Linked DNA regions of Homo sapiens: region 1 is linked to region 2. Evidence: fine-mapped expression QTL. Tissue or cell type: thyroid. Region 2 holds a variant in brackets; the other region holds the start of a gene. All regions are shown on one strand. Distances are between the middles of the regions.

What was found. PIP is the estimated chance that this variant, and not a neighbour inherited with it, causes the effect.
Region 1: it holds the start of AQP5, and the variant in region 2 is fine-mapped to the expression of AQP5 in thyroid (GTEx, PIP above 0.99).

What each region holds. Positions count from the first base shown.
Region 1 is chr12:49,960,799-49,963,298 of GRCh38, reverse strand. It overlaps AQP5 (aquaporin 5), which reads right to left and starts at 1,427. Exons shown (of 4, transcript NM_001651.4): 1 at 919-1,427. The coding sequence starts at 1,281. AQP5-AS1 (AQP5 and AQP2 antisense RNA 2) reads left to right here and starts at 516. Exons shown (of 3, transcript NR_110591.1): 1 at 516-632.
Region 2 is chr12:49,864,641-49,867,363 of GRCh38, reverse strand. FAIM2 (Fas apoptotic inhibitory molecule 2) reads left to right here. Exons shown (of 12, transcript NM_012306.4): 12 at 1-468. Among named protein-coding and RNA genes, the nearest start is that of BCDIN3D, 23 kb to the right of the region's middle. The variant C/T (reference allele first, on the strand shown) is at 1,037.

The sequences.
Region 1 (2,500 bases), 96 kb before region 2:
TCAGGCCTGTGGCCAAAGGGCAGAGCGTCAGGGTAGCTTTTCCTGGACACGGGCCTATCAATGGCTCTGCCCAACCCCCAGCCCCCATAAGCTGGCATTTACCCTCCATCCTGTGGGCAGCTGCCCGGTTTGCCTGCCTCACACCCCATCCCGGCCTCCTGCCCGTGCCTGGCCCCATGCCAGTGCCAGCCTTAAACCCGTCTCTCCAGTGCGGCTGACTCACAGCTTGACAATGGCCAAGCAAATCCTCCTCTGTGTTTGATTAATGAACCCAGTTTGCATGGGGTTGGGGGCTGACTCTGGGGCTGCAGGAGGTGGGAGGGAGGCAGGGGTGCGGGGTTGAGGGGAGGAGCACAGGTTGGGGAAAGAGGGAACCAATACTCAACAGAAACTGCTCTGCACTGGCCCCACATTAGGGGGTTCCTATCTACGGTTTCTAAATGTGAGCCCCTTGACACCTGCTGTGGCAGACACAACCATCCCCATGGAGGCGCTGAGAACAATGAAGCACAGACAGGCCAGGGTCACCCAAAGCCGTGATGACAGCCCGCTTTTCTCTGGTGGTTCTACTCAACCGCTCCACTGAGGTGATGGGAGAGGTGAGGGGCCCAGGAGGAAGGTGGAGCTCAAAGGTGAGACAGGAGGAGGCAGAAGTTTCTGGCAGGAGAGGAGGGGTAGCAGGCATTGGAGAGAGACCAGGGTGGGCCAGCATGAGGGGAGGGGGAGAGGAGGTGGGCAGGAAGGGAGCACATATCAGCCTGGAGAGTTGCCTTCCTGGCCTTGGGAGGCTCTTGCCTTCCTGGTGAAGGGTGTGGGCTGGCCCACTCTGCGGCACCCCTTTTTTCCAGGTGGGGTAAGAGGCCTGGTCCTGAGCCCACCCCAGGGTCGAGGCTCCCACCCCCCCCCCAGGGCACTCACCGCGTTGACGGCCAGATTGCCCCGGGCATTGAGCGGTGCCACACCGTAGAGGATGCCAGCCCCGGCAATGGCGCCCACCAGCTGGGCCGCCACGTAGAAGAAAGCCCGGAGCAGCGAGATCTGGTTGCCCACCAAGAGGGCCAGGGTGATGGCGGGGTTGATGTGGCCGCCGCTCACGGGTCCCAGGGCCTGGGCCAGCGTGCCTATGGCCAGGCCAAACGCCAGCGCGATCTGCAGGATGGTAGGCAGCGCCGACGGCCACTTGAGGGCCGAGCCCAGGCCAAAGAAGACGAAGATGAGGGTGGCCAAGAACTCTGCGAACACGGCCTTGAGGAAGGCCACGGAGCACACCTCCTTCTTCATGGTGGCCGCGGGGGCCCGGCGGCAGCTGCCGCGGCGGGGGGCGCCCGTTGGGTCGCAGGCGGCGGAGGAGGTGGATGCGGCGGGGGCGGGGGCCTGGCTGCGGGGCGCCGCGCACTGTCCCGCGCCCACTCCGAGGCTGGCGGCCTGGCGCGGGCCCTGCTGGGGCGCGCTATATAGGGGGCGGGCGGCCGGGCGCGGGGCCGGCGCGGGGGGGCAGGGGGCGGCTCCTACGCTCGGGGGCCAGCGCGGCGCGCGGGTTGGGAGGCTCCAGGCCGCTGCGGGCCCGCCGCTCTCCGTCGTCCAGCGCAACCCCGGCGCGACCCCCGCCCCCCGGCCGGGGCAGCCGCCGGCCCGTCCGGGCCACGTGACCCAGGCGGCGGTGTAGACCGGCCCAGCGTCCCGGGCCCTGCGCATGATGCGCCCAGGTTGGCTCCCGCGCTCTCCTCGGTGCCGTGCGCCCCGGACTCCCTGGGAGACGGGGCTCGGTCCCGGCGCTTCACTCCGACCTCGGGGCGTCTAGCTCCGCCGGCCTTTACCGCGCTCCGTGCGCGGCCTTCCCCTTTTCTTCTCTTCGGGCTTTTGGTCCAGCTCCTCCTTTTCCTCCTGCGACCGGAGCATCCTGACCCGCCTCACCCCCGGCTGGGTCGGAGTGATGCTCGTCCCGCAGGTCGGCGCCGCTCACCTCCCTCACCGCCGGCGGCGGGGGCGGGCGGCCGGGCTGGGTCCTGCAGGGCGGTCCGGCCGTCCGACGTGGGCCGCTCCCGGCCTGGGCCGGGCGAGCTTCTGGGCTTGGAAGGCTGGCGTTTTGGGAAAAGTGGGCACCGTGCCAGCCTGCCCCGACGCTTCGCAATCCTCGACGCCCGGTAGCTGGGCAGTACCTGGACTAGGCAACGGATCCCCGGAGGCGCCCTCTCCCAGGCCGGGGTTCCCCTTGTCGACGGGACGGGACGGGGGTGTGACGTGAGGCCTTGAGACTCTGGGAGTTGGAGTGGGGGAGCAGGGGGGGTAGAGACGCACCACTGACCTCCCAAGCGCGGTCTTGGCGTCTTCCCTCTTCCTGCTAGAAGCCCCTCACCCTGGATCTAAGACTCTCCTTCTCTTCCTCCACCTCCCCTAAGTCTCCTTCAAACCCTCACTTGGTCTTGATCTCTCTCCCCTCGAAATCTGTTTCTGTCAGTCAGTCTTTGCAAAACCCTATTTCTCTTTTTGTCTCTGTCTT
Region 2 (2,723 bases):
CAAGTCCCAGGTGTCCTGGCTGCTCTCCTGGGCGGGGTGGGATTTTTGCATAAGCACTTTGCTGCCCTCCAGTGGCTGCTTGAGGAAACGCAGGGCCTGGTTTGGGAGAGTCACCGAGGGCCCATGTGGCTGGAGGTTGGGGGCAGGATCTGGCCCGAGCTCTCCTCAGACCTCCCCAGACCTGTCTTCTCATCAGCCACCGCTGTTTTCTTTTGCCGAACGATGGTTGCATCTCTCGGACACAGTGTACCCCCTCCCAAGCCCTCCCTGAGCCGTTCTCCTGAGTCCCTGAGGGCAGACACAGCTCCAGGGACCCAGGCCAGCTGCCACACCCCCGACACTCCTGCTGTCCACTGGCCTTAGCTCCTGCAAGTTCCCCAGTGTCCGCACCTGTTCCCTTCCCTGACCTCACCTTCCTGGGGTCTGTGACTGACTGGAGATAAAAATAAAAGCAATTGTGACACCTGAGTTGTTTCCCTCGTCTGCCGTGTGCTGGTTGCCTCAGATGGTCGTGGAGTCTGTGTGGGTCAAACCCGGACCTGTGTGAGAGCCTTCTCACCAGAGCTGCTGAGTTTGAAGTAAATCTCCATGTTTATTTTCATGTGGACAGGGTTAAATTGGTTCTCCTGCTCAATAAACCCTTTACGGAGGCTCTCAGGATCCCGGAGTTAGAAGCAATCCCAGAGTCTCCTCCGGAACAGGGGCTCACCCCTTTCTGTGGAAGCCTGTCCGTTTGTGGGCCGTTCTGGTAGAAGGGTCTTTCTTATTTTGAGCCAAAATCTGCTTCCTAAAAGGTACACAGAAGGAAGGAATGCCTGGGTTGCATCTGGACAGATTGTCCAGAGCGGCAGCTTTAAAACCACAGAACCTTGGCTGGGCTCAGTGGCTCACGCCTGTAATCCCAGCACTTTAGGAGGCCGAGGTGGGTAGATCACCTGAGGTCAGGAGTTCGAGACCAGCCTGGCCAACATGGTGAAACCCTGTCTCTACTAAAAACACAAAAATTAGCTGGGCGTAGTGGCGCACACCTGTAATC[C/T]CAGCTACTCAAGAGACTGAGACGAGAATCGCTTGAACCCAGGAGGCGGAGGTTGCAGTGAGCCAAGCTTACACCACTTCACTCCAGCCTGGGCGACAGAGCAAGACTCCGTCTTAAAAAAAACAAAACAAAACAACAACCCTACAGAACCAAAGCTCCTTGAAGGCAGAGTTATGACGCACGGTCTCAGTAAACAACTTACTAGCGAATGGAGGAATGCATAGGTGAATGTGTCTACTCCAACCCTCTTATTTTACCTGAGAGGAAACTAAGGAGCAGAGGGTGCAGCGATTTGTCCAAGTTTACGCACAAATTAACGACTGGAAGTGGGGTCAGGAGGCGCATGGGTTAATGATCACCCCACAAGCTCCTGTGGGGAATGTGGGGCCAGGGCGCTGTGTGGGAGGGGAGGGAACGCCATCACACTGGAGCCATGGGGGACGTTATCCTTGTCTCTGACAAGGTTAGGACACAAATTCAGCTGGAGTAGGGAAAGTGGCTGGGGCAAGAGTTAGAGGACTCTGAGGAGAGAAAAGTGACTTTTATTAAGCGCTCACTGCATACAAAGCACTTCCACAGATTGTGAGAGATAGGACAGGGAGAAGATACCAACGGTGGTGCAAGAGAGAAACCAGGCACTGTGGCTCGAGACCGTGCAGCCGTGGGTCCTGAGAAGATGCAGCCCCACCGGGGAAGCAGTGCTGAGCCGTGTCGCCGGGGAAAGGGAAGATCCCTGGATCAGGGCTCAAAGTGTGCAAAATGTTGAGGGGCAGGGGCTGGTGTGATGGAAGGGATGAATGGTCTAGGTTGGGGTACACGCTGGGCCCCCTTGCCACCCCCTGCCTCCAGATCCCTTCTGCCTCACCACCCATTCTTACCTGGACTGCCTGTTAGCTTTCCTAGGACTGCCATACAAATTGCCACAAACTGGGTGGCTCAAAACAACAGTGATTCATTTCACCACAGCTGTGGAGGCTGGAAGCCTGAAGCCAAGGTGTCAGCAGGGTGGGTTCCTGCTGGAGGCTCTGAGGGAGGGCCTGTGGCAAGCACTTTCCAAGCCTCTGGCAGCTGCAGGTGATCCGCAGTGTTGCTTGGCAATGGCGCCTCCAGTCTCTGCCTCCATCTTCATATGGCCTTCTCCTCTGTGTCTCTGTGTCTTGAAGCTCCCTCTCCGTCCTCCTAGAAGGATACCTGTCTCTGGATTTAAGGCTTACAATAAATCTAGGATGATCTCATCTCAAGATCTTTATTTGGAAAAAGATCCTATTTCCAAAAAAGGTCACATTCACAGGTACAGGGGTTTAGAACTTGGACATATCTCTCTTGAGGGGGCCCCTATTCAACCCTTTACACCATTCATTCTCTTCTGGCTGCTACTGCCCCGTGGTGGCCTCTGTACGCATCCCCCACCCATGGGACAGTCTTCACATACAGTACCCAGCCCCCAGTGAGACTGGAGAAATCCCAGAGCTGAGCAACCTCATCCAGCTCACTTATACCATCTGTCTTTACTCAAGTCTGGCTACTCCCAGCAAACCTGTTTGCCCTCACAGATTTTGTGTGTGTGCCTGCACACACACACATGCACATGCGTGTGTGCGCACACACACACACCACGGATGGCTAAGATGCTTTCTTCCCAGCTTCTCATCCTCCACTCCCCTCCACACTCTCTGCTTGCTTTATC